Linked DNA regions of Homo sapiens: region 2 is linked to region 1. The links come from fine-mapping of genetic effects on plasma protein levels. Region 1 holds a variant in brackets. A gene starts in the other region. All regions are shown on their reverse strands.

Region 1 (8,333 bases):
TTAAATGGAGTAAGTTTATTTTCAGTTAAAAATTGCCATATTATCTTATCTTTTCACATTTCATGTAGCCTAGAGAAAAGTATGGCCCCCACCGTATTTGAGGCCCTCTTATCAATATTGATTGTGGAGTTATTCACTGTATTTGTTACTGATGATTAAAGCAACAATATGTGTGAATGAATTTTAAGTAATTTTGGCAGATTCAAAGTTATCCCATGTGGTTGCCAAAATATGCCCCTCCCATACCCACTGCCGCCCCCAGCTGCCAACCCCAAAGATGTCCACAATCCTAATTCCTACAACCTATGAATCTGTTGTATCATATGGCAAGTAGAAACTGCAAATGGAATTAAGGTTGCTAATCACCTGATCTTAAAATAGGGCAATTATCCTGGATTATTGGGGTGAACTCAGTGTAATCACAAGGCATCTTAAGTGGAGAAGAGTCAGAGAGATGGCATAGGAGTAAAGACTCATCTGACCATTGCTGGCTTTGAAGACAGAATGTGGCCACAAGCCAAGGAAGGAGGTAGCCTTTAAAATCTGGAAAAGGCAAGCAAACAATTCTCCCCTAGAGCCTGCAGAAAAAGCATAGCCCGGCCGACACCTTGATTTTAGCCCACTGGCATCCATTTAGGACTTCTGAGCTTCAGAACTGTAAGATAATACAATCGTATTGGCTTAAGCCAACAAGTTGGTGGTAATTTGTTACAGCAGCCACCTGAAGCAAATGCAGATTTCACGCAGCCTGGAGAAAAGTATGGCACCCATTTGCGTTTGAGGACTTGTGATCTACAACAGTTATGAAGTCATTCACAAATAATTTGTTACTGATAATGATTAAATCTATGTGTGAATGAGTTTTAGCAATTTTTGAGCAGATTCAAGAGTATCCCTATCACAGTGTTATTTTCCAAATTGCTTCCCTGAGTGAAAAAGACGGGGTTATAGCTGGGGCTGAAAATCATACAGAAATCATGAACGCATTTTTTTCTTTTGGATTGAGCATTTATTTTGTGCTCAAGACTGTCCTCAGTGCTTTATCTACATAATCACAGTTACCCACCCACCCCCCAAAACCTGGAAGGTAGGTACTATTCATATCACTCATTTACTTGCCCAAGATAATGCAAAGCTAGTGATCGAGCTAGGATTCGAACCTGTCATCAATGAGGAGAGTGGGTTGGGCAACCTCATGCCACTGGATAGGTGTGTTGTCATAGGTAGAGAAGGTTGAGAACCCTAACCTAGCACAGGAAGCCACACCGCTGCATATATCAGGGCCGCCTGCCCTAGCCGGGCCATACAACACGTCTGCCACTCCACTATCATCAAGCTGTGGCACTCTTTTCCCAATTTACAAAAACAAAACTTTTTAAATAATAATAATTTCAATGGAAAAGCATTTCTCAAGTTAGCTTCTTCTCTGACACATTTCTCTTAAACTTTTGTTACTTGGTTACCATTGTTTGAGTGTCTACGTGCCAAGCACTAGAGGGAGTAAAACATATTATTTGTCATTAAGTCCTCACCCCAGTATTTTCCGTCCCTTTGACAGATGAGGAAATGGAGTTTCAGAGACGTGAAGTAACTACTGCAGAGTTAAATAGCCAATAAATAGCAGGAGACTCCAGGGCTCCACAGTCAGATGTAGCCCTAAATTATCTATTTAATCCTTTAAACTTAAAACGTTAATGCTTCATGGTTTTCTGCAAAAATCCCAGTGACTTCCAAGTGCTGGACCTGAAGATTCCCGGTCTGGCATTTGCTCTTTCGATCATGTGCTGTCCTCATATGCAGTTTATTTATTAGGCCTGAGACATTGCGACTTAGCTCCAAGTTCCCTTGAGGCTATTTTCTTGAGACTTTGGAGGTTTCAAGCAAATCAGGGATTGGCTAACAAAACATTCTAAAACAGGTGAGTCATGGTTAAGTCTTACCCATAAGAGGAAGCCAAGTGTAAAGTCTGAGGGGATTCAAAGGACTCTCCCTTTCTCTCCTTCCTCACCCTGAAACCTGGCTGTGCTCCCTAGACACGTTCATAGTGGCAAAGTCATGGCTGTTTCAGCATATTAATAGGACGACTCTGGGAGCGATAAAGGCCATAGAATGGAGCCACTGAGAGAAGCTTTTGTGTCTCCAAGACTCCAACCCCTTTGATGAAACAGATGTTTGGGCCAGGCCCTCCTTTACAAGGAGAGTTAAACCTCAGTAAACAGCAGGAAAACCTCCTTGGTGGCAATGAACAGCCCACACGCTGGTCTTCCCTAGCAGCAGATGGGCTGGGGAAGGGGTGGCCTCCTGTCATCAAGCCCTGTGCCACCCGCTCAGAGACTGCAGAGCTGGTGTCTGTGACACGTGGTCGGTCACCTTGGAGGCTTTGATTTACGGTTGACTTTGGGAAAGACCAGCCTCTGACCTTGGCAGCCTGTTGCCTCACCATCTTTTCTCTAGGTTGGGAGAACTTTCCATCAAGATGGATGCACATCCCAAGTCTGGCCCCATGAAGGAGCTTCCCAGAGACCTTCTGGCTCAAATGTAGCAGGAAGGCTTGAAATGAAACCCTTTCCTCATCTGCCAGTGTCCCTGGAGCAATCTACAGACAAATGTAGGAAAATCCAGGACTAATATTGCCTCATGAGTTGAAGCTCAACATTTGAGAGTGCTGTATGTATCATCCACAGGCCCATGAAGCCTTCCTGGGTTTACTCTGAAGCATCAACTGCCCCAACTGCACAGCCAGGCTGCTCGAAAACAAAAACAAAAAAAATACATGGGAGTTACCCAAGGATGATTTTTCTCAAAATCTGCCAAGTAGTTCATTCAGTTTAGGGTGTGCGTTTGGGTAGGGTCAATTATTTCAGCAAAACTGTGGATTTAGCATTATCTTCCTTGAACCAGAAACATCTGCATAGGATGTATAAGCCAACAGGCAGTTAGAAATGGCCGAACAGGTGGGTGTAAAGAAGAAAAAAAAAATGTGTGAGCTATATTTAATTGAATACCAAAAATAGCTAATACATACTGAGCACTTACCATGGGCCACAAACTGTGCTAAGCACGTCATATGTATCCCACTCAATTCTTGCAGTGATCCTCTGAGGTTGATACTCTTATTATCCTTATTCTGTAGGAGATGAAACAGACACAGAGAGGTTAAGTAAGTTGGCCAAGGTTGCACAGCTATTAAGTGCCAAGCTGAGATTTGAACCCAGGCAACCAGGCTCCAAAGTCCATATGCTAACTACTATGATCGTCTTTAAAATCTGCCTAAAAGTAGATGGACGAGAGAGTTGCCCCTTTAAGACAAGTTAATCCTCGGTGTTCAAATTGGCTGTCTATGTGCATGTGTGTATGCGCAAGACACACGACTGCACACACTGTGAACTGAAACGTTTGGAGCTCCCAGAACCCCCCTGTTCCCATCTTATGAGTGCAGAGACACAGCTCTTCCCTCCCCAGGCATTTTGGCAGGCCAGAGGCCCGCTTAAGCCAGAGGCCTTGGCCGGCCAGGCTACCGGGAGGTGGCGCTGTGTCACTTTCCTACTCCGGAGCTTTTGTTTTCTGCGGGCTGCACGCTGGAGGTGGGGAGGCCAATTTGAGCAGAGCCTGTCGCCAATTTCCCTGATTTGAAATCTCACTCTCTTCTGTCACTTCCTTCAAATGAGCTGGGAGATGTTCAACAGATGACAGTCCTGAAAACGAGCCAAAACTGTTCTCTTAATCCCATCTCAAGAT[T/G]TATTTGAAAAGGGTGTTTCCAAACAAGGAGCAGATTTCATGTGTCAGAATTACACTCACGCTGACCTCTTGGTTTTCAAAAGGAGAGAGGAAAAACACACCCAAACTCTCAACCACCTTGTAAAAACTCAGGTGATCATCGGGCCATGGGCTCAGGCCCTGTCCACAAGGAGGTACACAAATGCCCATTCCCCGGGAAATCCCAGGGTTAGCTGGAGGATCTACCTCTCTCCTGTGCACCACATCTCTCCAGGCCTCTGTGGACTTGCCGGTCCAAGGTGGCCCACCTCCTGCCGCCCTTCAAGAGGCTTCTCTCTAAGGAGCCGAATGCTCAAGGGTTCATGGCACTGCTGACATTTTGACATTTGCACATCAAATGAGCTGTACACTGACTTATCAAAGGAAGAATCACCCAACACGGTGATGCTTAGGCCTGCAAGGGAACCTCAAAGAACTTCGTCTGTCTCCCAGTTTTCTAGATGAGAAAATTGAAGCCCAGAGACAGGAAGTAAATCTCAACCTGGTAAATGGAAGAGCTGCAAGTGGCTCTCAGAATGCCCTGGCCGGGACAGCTGCCACCGCCTTAGGATAGAGTTTTAACCCTGAGGCACAGGAGGAGGAATGGAGCTTTGGAGTCAGACAGGCCTGGTTTGAATCCCAGTGCTTTAAGTATATTTGCATGACCCTGGGAAAATCACTAAATATTTCTGAGCCTCAGTTTCATCTGGAAAATGGGACAATATACAATCTGATCATGGGATTGTGATGAAGAGTAAATAAAATAACATACACGTAGGTTTCCAACATATGTTGCTTCATCCTTGTTTATTTTTTTGTTTTTTTGTTTTGCTTTGTTTTGTTTTGGTGTTATTTTAACCCCAATCGGAGAAGCTGGTTTCAGATTGGGGCTGACCCAATGGTAGGCACGCAGGCACCTTAAGAATCTAACTGTGCTTTGTAACTATCCTGTCCTCAGACCATCAAGCTACCTTGATCTTGGCTTGCAAATGTGGAGGACTGTCTTTTCTGTCTTTTGGGATCTGGAAACAAAGTTAGCCTTAGGCACAAGGTTTTAGGAGATTTGGGAAGGCTTACCATTCCTAAACCTTTCTCTTATCTTTCTAACGCCCATCCCTTGGCAAACATGTGTGTCCTCAATGCATTGAGTAAATGCTGTAATCTGGGCACATATCTTTCTTTTTTCAACAATCAAATACCCCCATGAGTGTGATGGTGATACCAACACCTTAGCATGAATTTTTTCAATTAGATTGCTTTCTTGCTAATGTCTGCATTAAGGAGATAGAAATTTTTATGAGGATGAGAGAATGGCTAAAAAATAAGGGATGTAATTTTTAAGCTGAGCTAAGGGGGTACCCCAAGAAGAAGCTTGAGCAGCAAGATGTAGCAGGCGAACAGTGTGGATAGAGAAAGAACACTGCAGGGAAATTCAGGGATCCAGAAATAATGGCAGGAGGGCTTCAGAGTTAACCTCATCAACCTGGAAAGTTTAGTGCAGCTGGTGTCTATGTGGGTGAGGTGACTCAGGACTACTGAAATGCCTCAGTCCACCCCTGTCCCCACATACATAGCATGTGTAAGGGCCTGTAGAAACGCCCTGAGCTTGGGCCTGACTCACAGACCTTCCTACGAAGCCATGAATTTAAACTCTTCCTGACTCAGATAAGGCATGTTTCTGATGGCTGACTTGGAGGAAGACTTTCATTCAAGCCTCAGTTATTTCACTCTATGCCAGGATAGGGAGGTGACTGAGACCCTCAAGAGAATCCCAGGCCATGAGATTATCCCAGATCTCAAGAGGATCCCAAGCCAATAGGTTCCGGTTTCCATGAGAGTACAGTGACATGTGTAGGTGACCTCTCCTCCATAAGAGAGGAGTACATGTCACGGTACTCTCATGGAAACATCTTCCCATAGCCTGAGAGGCCCTGCCTGACCCAGGCTCACCACCCAGCCCTTTCTGCAGCTCTGACCCAGCCAGGCTGGGATCTTCCTGCCTGACCTTGGGAACTGCTGCACCAGCCACTGCCTCTGCCAGGTACGCTCCTCCCCATGGTCTTCACAGGGTGCGCTCCTTCTCATCATCCAGGTCTCAGCTCAAAGGTCACCTCCTCAGAGAAGTCTGCCCTGCCCCACAAACCCAACGCCGCCCCACCCACCCTTCACTCCCTATCTATAGTGTCACTGGTCACTAACTATAAGCTTCGTGAGGGCGGGAGCTGTTTTGTCTCCACAGCTACATTCCAGCACACGATGAGAAGACACTCAGGAGGCTGGCAATAAAGACTGCTTTCTGAATGGATGGATTCCTCTCTCCCTTCGCTCTCCCTTATCTGTTCTCTCTCCTACTTTAGTGGGGTTGCTGTTGTTGCTGTTGTTGCTTTTGGCTAAATCATGCTCAGATTTCCAAGTGTAAAATAAGGTTGTTTTCCCTCAAGGCAGATATGCTTTCCAGCCACTATATCTTTTTCTTTCCTTCACATCTAAACTCCTTTCACAGATCACCCTCACTGCTCCAGCTCCACCATGCCTCCTGCTCACACTTCAGCAGCTCATAATGGGGCTTCTTCCTTCACCCCTAGGCTGATAAGATTCTCATGAGCAGGGTGTCTCCAGTAGCCACACAAGTTATACACTACACAACTCCAGGGGTCACCATCCCACAGACGAGGGTGTAGACGACTCCCCCTGGGGGTGTGCAGTGTGCACAGCCATGCCTGGCCACCGTGCTCGGGATCTATCTTAATCACCAACCATCTCCCTTCCTCAGGCTTGAGCCTCCTTGATCTCCTGGCAACACAACACTGTTGATCCTCTCCTCTCTGACCTGATGAAGTGCTACATTCTCCTGGTTTCCGCTCTACTCCTCTAAGGTCTCCCTCCAGCCTCCTTTCCAAATTCTTGCTACTCCCTCTTGCTAACTGGGTGTTCTCTCAGACTCTCGCCTCAGATCCACACAGCCTGCCTCAGAAATCTCTACCACAACTCCCATGGTGTCAACTCCCATGGTGTCAACAAATGACCTGCCTCTTCCCTTGTATTAGTCCATTCTCACACTGCTATAAAGAATACTACCTGAGACTGGGTAATTGTAAAGGAAAGAATTTTAATTGACCCACCGTTCCGCATGGCTGGGGAGGCCTCAGAAAATTTGCAATCATGGCAGAAGCAGGCACCTTCTTCACAAGGTGGCAGGAGAAAGAAGCATGAAGAAGGAACTTCCAAACACTTATAAAGCCATCGATCTTGTGAGAACACACTCACTATCATGAGAACAGCTTGGGGGAAACCACCGCCATGGTCCAATCACTTTCCTTCCTCAACACACGGAGATCACAGGTCCCTCCCTTGACACTTGGGGATTACAATTGGAAATGAGATTTGGGTTGGGACACAGTGCCAAATCATATCACCCCTCCTCACACACTGGCTGGACATCTCCACTTGACATGAGGGAGACTTCAAAAGCCAACTCTACCTGATGCCCAACCTTCCCAGGGTCTTGCTCTGTCTGGACCAGTATGGGGGCCATAATAGTAGGAATGTAGCAAGATGTGGCACTGGGGATGACGCTGGCATCCTGTATCTGGTAGAATCCTTCCACAGCACCCCTTTCCCCATAACTATCACCCAGGCCCACCTCATGCATAAATAGTTCCTCACGCTAAATGCTGGACTGGTGAAAGGGAGAGGAAAAACCCCCAGCTGAAACCGTCTCTGCTCTGAGAGACGGCCTGATTCCAGGGACTTCTTGGGTCACTGACACTCTTCACTGAGGAGGGAATCTGTCCATAGAGACATTGGAGGGAGCCAGCTCTGACAGGTACAGAATAAAGAGTTGGCAGGGACAGTGAGCATTTCAGAGAGAAGGAGGGAACCCCTGACAGCCGCCTGACCTGGGAGTCGGAGCCTTCTATTTACACTTGACGTCCATTGAGGATGCATGAGGAGAATGAGCACAAGACAAGAAAAGGGAAGGAAAAAGAGGGGGCAGATGCTTGCCCAGGCACCCACCTGTCAAGCTGTGGAGAAATAATGCTAGAGTCGGGAGCTGGGTCTGGGCCTTGCTGCCTCTGTCCTGGCTGAGGGCTGCCCAAGTCTAACAGACACATGTGATCCTTAAGCTGTGGCTCACTGGCCTCACATGGGAGTGGGCAAATTGCTCCCCAGAGACCATCTCAGTTGCTTCCGAAGCACTTCCCATTTTCGTGCCCCTCATAATTAATAGTGGTCAAACCCCAAGGCTACTGTACCTTTTCTGTATTTTTGTTTTTGAGTCTGTGGAAGACAGAAAGGAAGCCAGGGCTACCCTTGTTTCCTTTATGTTTAAGGACCTGTCTGGTTTTTACTGGACCCTTTCCAGAGATGGTACTACTTCCCAGGACAGCAGGTGTTTTCGATCAGAGTCCTTTCTGGACTCTGGAAATTCATCTCTTGCTGTACTGGGGTAATGTCCCACATGCCTGGGACATTCAGCCCTGAGAGAGCTGCACTGTCTACAGCAGCTGGACACACAGCTCAGTGACCAGCTCAAACCCAGAAATTCCAGTGAGAGGGAGCAGGTCTTACTGCAG
Region 2 (8,333 bases), not on the chromosome of region 1:
TTTCTCCACATCCTCTCCAGCACCTGTTGTTTCCTGACTTTTTAATTATTGCCATTCTAACTACTGTGAGATGATATCTCATTGTGGTTTTGATTTGCATTTCTCTGATGGCCAGTGATGATGAGCATTTTTTCATGTGTCTGCTGGCTGCATAAATCTCTTCTTTTCAAAAGTGTCTGTCCATATCCTTTGCCCACTTTTTGATGGGGTTGTTTGATTTTTTCTTGTAAATTTGTTTAAGTTCTTTGTAGATTCTGGATATTAGCCCTTTGTCAGATGGGTAGATTGCAAAAATTTTCTCCCATTCTGTAGGCTGCCTGTTCACTCTGATGGTAGTTTCTTTTGCTGTGCAGAAGCTCTTTAGTTTAATTAGATCCCATTTGTCTATTTTGGCTTTTGTTGCCATTGCTTTTGGTGTTTTAGTCATGAAGTACTTGCCCATGCCTATGTCCTGAATGGTATTGCCCAGGTTTTCTTCTAGGGTTTTTATGGTTTTAGGTCTAACATTTAAGTCTTTAATCTATCTTGAATTAATTTTTGTATAAGGTGTAAGGAAGGGATCCAGTTTCAGCTTTCTACATATGGCTAGCCAGTTTTCCCAGCACCATTTATTAAATAAGGAATCCTTTCCCCATTTCTTGTTTTTGTCAGGTTTGTCAAAGATCAGATGGTTGTAGATGTGTGGTGTTATTTCTGAGGCCTCTGTTCTGTTCCATTGGTCTATATCTGTTTTGGCACCAGTACCATGCTGTTTTGGTTACTGTAAGCTTGTAGTATAGTTTGAAGTCAGGTAATGTGATGCCTCCAGCTTTGTTCTTTTTGCTTAGGATTGTCTTGGCAATGCAGGCCCTTTTTTGGTTCCATATGAACTTTAAAGTAGTTTTTTCCACTTCTGTGAAGAAAGTCATTGGTAGCTTGATGGGGATGGCATTGAATCTCTAAATTACCTTGGGCAGTATGGCCATTTTCACGATATTGATTCTTCCTATCCAAGAGCATGGAATGTTCTTCCATTTGTTTGTGTCCTCTTATTTCATTGAGCAGTGGTTTGTGGTTCTCAGGAGGGCTTTTTTTAAAAAAGGTTCTTTAAGGAAAAATGTATCTATTATTTACAGAGATTCAAGTATGGACTAGCAACAGCAGGAAGTCTGAAGCAGCGTGTTGGGGGGTGGGGGTGAATAATGTCACCTGACAACAAGAGATGGCGCTCTGAAACAGGGACCAGACAGAAGCTGCAGTCAGAGAGAAACAGCCATTGCCACACCATGCTGCATTAAGTATCCGTGGCTGTAAAAATTATTCAAACATTTGGTGGCTTCACACATGATTTCTTATCCACAGTTGTTATGGATCAGCAGTCCAGGTACAGATGCGCCCTCAGACACAGAGTCTCTAATGAGGCTGCAGTCAAGGTATCATCGAGGCTGCGGTCACCTCAAAACTCAGCTGAGGAAAGACCCACTTCCAAGCTCAGTCACGTGGTAGCTGGCAGGGTTGAGTTCCTCACAGATAGCTGGACTAAGGGCCTCGGCTCCTTACTGGCTACAGGCTGGAGGCTGTCCTCGGTTTCTTGCCACGTAGGTCTCTCCACAGGACAGCCTCACACATGGCCACTCACTTCATCAGAGCAAGCTGAGAAGATCCAGAGACAGAGTGTGTGTAAACAAGACTAAAGTCATAGTCTCAGAACTGACTACCTCATCACTTTGCCATCTTCTATTTGTTAGGAGTGAATCTCGAGACCCAGCCCAGTTAAGCAGAGGAAATTACAGCAGGGCACCAATGCCAAGACGTAGGCATCACCAGGAGCTATCTCTGAAGTCGTCCTACCACACATGCCAAAGCAAGAGAGGGAGCAGGAGGAACAAATGCCTTAATCTCTCCCTTTTCCCACCCTCCCATCTCCCACCTGTGTCTCCCATTGGCCAAACTCAACTCGAAGCTAGAGGGCATGGGAGCCCAGGTGATACAGCCCATAGAGGCATCCTTCCAGACCAGTGCAGAGATGAGAGAGAATAAACCTGAGGCAGAGGGGAGAGAGGTACAACGAGCAGCCCATGAGACAAGACACAGATCAGCGAACTGACAGTCATCATGGAGGTCAGATAACCTAGAAAACAAGACATCACACAGAGCAGCCCCTCACCCATATCCATGAGGTCCGTCAAGACATTGCACAGAGCAGCCTCTCACCCATATCCATGAGGTCTGCCTCTTTAATCTATGCACCCAATTCTTTCCCAGGCTCTATAATTTGGGGTAACATTTCTCTGGGCCCTGTTATAGAATAATGAAAATTTTCTATAAAACAAATGTCCTTACTTTCACCTCATCCCTATTTATGTAAATGCTTGCCTCTTTAATTACTGAGGCCAGGAGGAAGATTTGGGAGAGGAAAGGGCTATGCGGTGACATTTGGAAAGACCCTGCTCTGTGACAGTTCTAGTGTTGACGCCAAAGTTCTCATTTCCTCTTAGAAAAGTCTTGTGCAAATAGCATAATTTGCTCCTGTTGACTTTTTTAATGTGCTCATGGAGACTGCTCGGGATCTAGATCTGTTTGGGATCTGCAGGACTTCTCCTTCTGCAGTGTACACACACGTGCACACACGTATGTGCACATACCCAGGGCACTGGTGCCATCAAAACTTTCTCTTGTTCTTCAGCCTTCCCCATTCCAGGTAAGGCCACCACCACCTTCAAGGCTCCCAGGCCCAGACCCTCAGGCAGGTAGCAATTGCCAAGGCTTTAATGTCCCACCCCATTAATTTTATCTTCCTTTATCTCCTGAAAAGATTAATGTTCTAAACCCTGGCACCCAAAACACCCTCATGTTGAAAACTCTTCAATACCCCCTTCTCACACTCATCTTCAGAGCTACCATGAGGCAGAGAAGCCTCCGGAATCAGCCCACATGGGGCTGGGTGAATGCCAACACCAAGCAAGGGGAAAGTCACAAATTGACATCCAGCACCTTATTCTCCACCCTTCAGCCCCTCAACTGACTCCTGCTCCACGGCCCGTTCTATTAATATCTAGCATTTAGCACCAGCCTGGACAAAAACCTACTTGGAAAGATGGTACAAGAACCCCACACAACTCCATAGAACTTCGCTGTCTAAAAAAATGCTTTGCCGTATATTATCCCACTTAATCTCCACCACTATGCTGTACATAGGAGCCACAACTCCTAGACAACAAATAAAAATCCTATCACTTTTCAAATCCTAACATTTTCATATGACAAAGCCAGAACTCAAAATCCAGACCTCTAGAGTCCCAGATCAGGAAAGGAAGAAACGCCAAGTCAAAGAGAAGCTTCTTTAGAATAATCTGCTTTTCTGGATTATTCACACCATGGGTCAGCTCCCCACTTGAAGTCAGAACCAAGCTCCAATTTCAGTGAACCACCATCATGCTTTGACCAGGAGATTCTCTCAGAAATGTGGGGTCCCATTGAGTAGGCCTGAAGACAGAGATTGACAGGCCTATGTGAGCCTGGAGGAGTTCTTTTTAGGGGCTGGATAATGTCAAGAACAGAGAACAACTCCAGAGAAGGCACACACGCCTTCAAACCCATCCCCTCATGGGGAGAAAGCAGCCAGGAACTCAGGCCTCAAGTGTTCTAGGTGTGGTCTCCCAAGGAAACGGGCTCACTTAGTTTGGGGAAACCTTCAAACCCTGCACTGAGTCCTATGTAGACTGGGACAGAAGGTGGACAATGTAATCCCCTGAGCCCTCAACCTCCTCCTGGAGAGATGACAAGATTAAGATTTCTCTACCAGAACCCTCAACAGACACATCCCAGAATCTCCCCAAGTGAAATGTGCTCTACCTACCGTCCCTGAGAGCCCAGGGGTGTGAACCCAGAGGGCAGGTGTGGTGGGGAAGGGAGGAGGGAGAAAGAAAAGGGATGGCTGGGAGTTAGAGAAAGGCTCCTATCCAGGACCTGCCTGCAAGGATCCCAGGTATCAGCCAGCCCAACCTAGCCCTTGTTGACTTAGCAGGTGACAGTTTGGGGAAGAAGGGGAGGAGGATGCGGAAGTCACACCTCTCCAGGCTTGGTTCCCATTGGCCCTTGATATCCTTAAAAGGGCCCAGCAATTTCAGCATCCTTATTCCCCAGACCTTCTGCAGATTCTGTGGTTATACTCACTCCTCATCCCAAAGAATGAAATTTACCACTCTCCTCTTCTTGGCAGCTGTAGCAGGGGCCCTGGTCTATGCTGGTGAGTATGGCCTTTCCTCTGCGCCCCACAAGAGTCCTCCCAGTCCAAGGAGCCCCTCACTCCTGCCTTCACCCCTCTCCTCCTCTCTCAGTGCTATTCTGGTTTCCCTGCCTCTGCAAGTGACTCCTCTCCCAGTTCTCCACACGTGGCCTCTGCACCCCACTGGCCAGAGGAACCCAGAACTCTCTGGCCTCTGCCTGCCCTCCCAGCTCATCTCCTCACACACCATTGTTTACCCACTATGCCTCAGCTACACTGGCTTCTCTGGTGTCCCCTGCATGTAGTTGAGCAGGGTGTCCCCTACACGAGGGTGCCCAGGCAAGGAGTGGTAGAAGCTAAAATCTGGCCGACACTCTACTTGCCAAGCAGTGAGCCTGGCCCCTGGCTGTGTCTCTTAGGAGGAAGGGATGCCTTTTTTTTTTTTTTTTTTTTGAGACCGAGTCTCCCTCTGTTGCCCAGGCTGGAGTGCAGTGGCACGATCTCTGCTCACTGCAACATCCACCTCCTGGGTTCCAGCGATTATCTTGCCTCAGCCTCCTGGGTAGCTGGGACTACAGGCTCATGCCACCTTGCCCAGCTAATTTTGTATTTTTAGTAGAGACGGTGTTTCACCATGTTGGCCAGGTTGGTCTCGAACTCCTGACCTCAGGTGATCCGACTGCCTTGGCCTCCCAAAGTGTTGGAATTACAGGCGTGAGCCACCGTGCCCTGCTGGGATGCCTTTTTTGATCCACAGAAGCACTATTTGGGCCATGATGATCCTGCTGTTCCTTGAACATCAGGATCTTCCTTCTTGTCCTTTCCTCGTCTAGAATGCTTTCCCTCTCCCTGGCCCCTTCCCCCAACCAACTCTAATGTCACCTGGCCAATGATTTTTCATCTAGAAAATCTCAGTTTACATATAATTCCCCAAAAAGGCCTTCCATGCACATGCGGAACAAATCAGATCCATGTGCCCTTCTCGCACCAGGCTGCACGTTCCCTTCCAGCACTGTCACACCAGCCATTAAATAATTTCGTAAAAGGACAGATGTAAGCTCTGTCAGGGCAGGGGTCTTGTCTGCCCTCTTCAGCACTGCACCTCCATCTCTTGGCACAGAGCTTTGCATAAATGTTGTGTTGAAAGAATAAAGGGAATCAAGGCTGGGGTCTCAATCCTGCAAATCGCTCAAATATGGCCCCATAACCCCCACATACTGTCCTCCTCCACCACAGAGGAGGTTGAGCCCCTCTGACCATGGCCAGCTCCATGACAGACACCTCAGGGAAGCCTACCAAGCCAGGGGCCAGTCAGGAGGAAGGCACTGTTCCAAGAGACATTACACTTCTCAGAGGGGAAGTTATTTCAAAAGCCACAGGAGTTAAACATCAGAGAGTGCCCCAGTAGACCCGCTGATATGGTGGAAGGGCATGTCCAACCCAAAGGGAAATTGATCCCCTTCTATCCATGAGCATTCCCAGGAGATAAGCTTTGGGAATGGGAGGGGAGGGTGGCTCGAGTAGGTCCGGTTCGGTCCTTGCTCTCATCTGGCATGTTTCCCCCATTGCAGAAGATGCCTCCTCTGACTCGACGGGTGCTGATCCTGCCCAGGAAGCTGGGACCTGTGAGTCCTCCTCTCCCTGCTGCCCTAGCCCTCGTTGGGAAGGTTTAACAGTTAGGGATGTGAGTGGTGGCTGGGAGAAGAAGCCAGTGGGAGGAGATCTGGATTCTGTGCTTGGTGGTAATGGGGAGGGGCAGGTAATATAATAAAGAAGGTGGCATGGGTTGAAATGGTACAAGGCTAAGGACAAAAGAGGATGACCCAGAGAGGCAAGGACAATAGGGAGCATGGGGAAAAGGTTATTGTGAATAAAAGGGAGAGAAACATGAGGTTAAGTGGTAAGGGCAATGTCTCACATGGCATTAATACCTTCACCTGCAAACACCTCCCATTACTCCCAATTCCTTAGCAAGATAACCATTATCTGGCCTCTAACCTCATTTTCCAACCCCATTTTCCATGACTCTCTTTTATGTCGCACCCACATCAGCTAAATTGAACTTGTTTCCATTCCCCACACATGCCTTCGCCTGACCTCTTACTCACTGCCTGCCCCCAGGGAAGCCCCTTTGGTACATCCTCTCCTGCTAACATCCTGCCTTCAAGATCCAGCTTCTCTATGAAGTGCTCCCCGATTCTCACCATCCCCTAGTCCAAATCCTTCCCCAACCCTGCCCGCTGCATTCCAAGAGACACACAGCATGCAGAAATGCTATCTCCCTTAAGGGGGCAGCGTTTAAGCCATATCACTTCTGTATCCTGGCACCCAGCACACATTAGGTATCCTGGGGCCCTGCAACCCATTCCAAAAGAAACAAACACTTTCACTTTGCTAAAATCCATCAATTTGTGCATTCACAGCTAAGCCTAATGAAGAGATCTCAGGTCCAGCAGAACCAGCTTCACCCCCAGAGACAACCACAACAGCCCAGGAGACTTCGGCGGCAGCAGTTCAGGGGACAGCCAAGGTCACCTCAAGCAGGCAGGAACTAAACCCCCTGAGTAAGTCTCTGTCTCTATGCCAGATCAACAACCTAGAAAAGTCTCTGGCTGCAGGCCCACATCACACCTCCACGCACAGAGATAAGCCTGGTGAGAAGCAGGTAGACTCAAACAGCTGAACACAAAGGCACAAATGGGATTGTGCATTGCACCCACACACAACGTTTTCACAATAGTAGATGTTGCAGCCTGCACAATACATGGTTTCTGTCCTGGCTCACACAACTTCCTATGAGAGAAGTGCTGGAGCCCTCAGCAAAACTTCTGCACTTTAGGACTTTCTGTAGGGATGATGTCCTGGGTGGAGTGGGGGTGGGGGGCGGGTGCAGGTGGGGCAATGCAGAGTTCTCTTTAAATGAGGTGATTTTTCTGCTGATGTGATTGTTCTGCTCCAAAATTAGAATCCATAGTGGAGAAAAGTATCTTACTAACAGAACAAGCCCTTGCAAAAGCAGGAAAAGGAATGCACGGAGGCGTGCCAGGTGGAAAACAATTCATCGAAAGTGAGTGCATCCCAAGGCAAGGCTTTGTGGGAATGAGAATACTCACCACCCACCATCCGGGGGTGGGATATGGGACAGAACTTGCCCCCATTTCCACCTCACATATGAGACTTGGAATTGCCACAGCCCCTGCTGTTGAAGACCCCTCACTTTGTGCTTTCATATGTTTCCAATTTCTCATCCAGATTCAAATTGCCAGCTGGGCACGGTGGTTCACGCCTGTAATCCCAGCACTTTGGGAGGCCAAGGCAGGTGGATCGCTTGAGCCCAGGAGTTCAAGACTAGCCTGGGCAACATGGCGATACCCCATCTCTACAAAAAAATACAAAAATTAGCCAGGCGTGGTGGCACATGCCTGTAGTCCCAGCTACTTGGGAGGCTAAGGTGGGAGGATCACCTGAGCCCGTGAGGCAGAGATTGCAGTGGGCCGAGATTGTGCCACTGCACTCCATCCTGGGTGACAGAGAAAGACCCTGTCTCAAAAAAAAAGAACAGATTCAATGTGCCATGTTGTCTGATATTGATTCACCTGGGGTCTAACCCCCTACCTTCCCGCAGCAGAGCCTGCTTGTTTCTATTCTTGTCCCCTGCCCCTGCCAAGGTGGGGAAGAGGGTAGGTCCTTCAGGCTCTGGTGAATCTAATCTCAATCCCTCCAACTTCTGTGTAAGCCTCTCCAGAGTCTCAGTAAGTCTGGAAAGCAGAGATGGAATTGAGGAGAAATGGAAGGGGTGGAGCTGGTGCCTGGGGTCCTAAAAGCCTCATTTGTCTCATCTTTCCTTCTAGATGGAAGTGAATTTGCACAAAAATTACTGAAGAAATTCAGTCTATTAAAACCATGGGCATGAGAAGCTGAAAAGAATGGGATCATTGGACTTAAAGCCTTAAATACCCTTGTAGCCCAGAGCTATTAAAACGAAAGCATCCAACTTGCTGTGTGCCTGTGCTCTATGGGATGGGCCCTGGAGGAAGTGCAGGGAGAAAAGCCCTCCCTGGACCAACACAAGGCATAGGATGTCCTGACCCAGGCCCTTGGCCAGTCACAGGCTGCCTGGAAGGCA

Direction of the effects. Positions count from the first base shown, and alleles are read on the strand shown. Strength reflects both the effect of a copy and how common the allele is.
In carriers of allele G in region 1, the plasma level of the protein whose gene starts at base 4,117 in region 2 tends to be lower than with T alone (weak association).

The links. A credible set is the group of variants that fine-mapping cannot tell apart. PIP is the posterior inclusion probability: the model's chance that the variant is causal. The UK Biobank Pharma Proteomics Project read protein levels with antibody pairs (Olink). The fine-mapping took linkage between variants from a reference panel, not from the people measured, so its PIPs are less certain.
Region 2: it holds the start of LACRT, and the variant in region 1 is the best candidate, but not a certain one, in a credible set for the plasma level of the LACRT protein (UK Biobank, PIP 0.63).

Annotation. Positions count from the first base shown.
Region 1 is chr11:31,953,509-31,961,841 of GRCh38, reverse strand. No RefSeq gene overlaps it. Among named protein-coding and RNA genes, the nearest start is that of LINC03031, 84 kb to the left of the region's middle. The variant T/G (reference allele first, on the strand shown) is at 3,739.
Region 2 is chr12:54,630,679-54,639,011 of GRCh38, reverse strand. LACRT (lacritin) reads left to right here and starts at 4,117. Exons shown (of 5, transcript NM_033277.2): 1 at 4,117-4,228; 2 at 5,779-5,832; 3 at 6,631-6,771; 4 at 7,173-7,274; 5 at 8,059-8,201. The coding sequence starts at 4,171. The coding sequence ends at 8,120.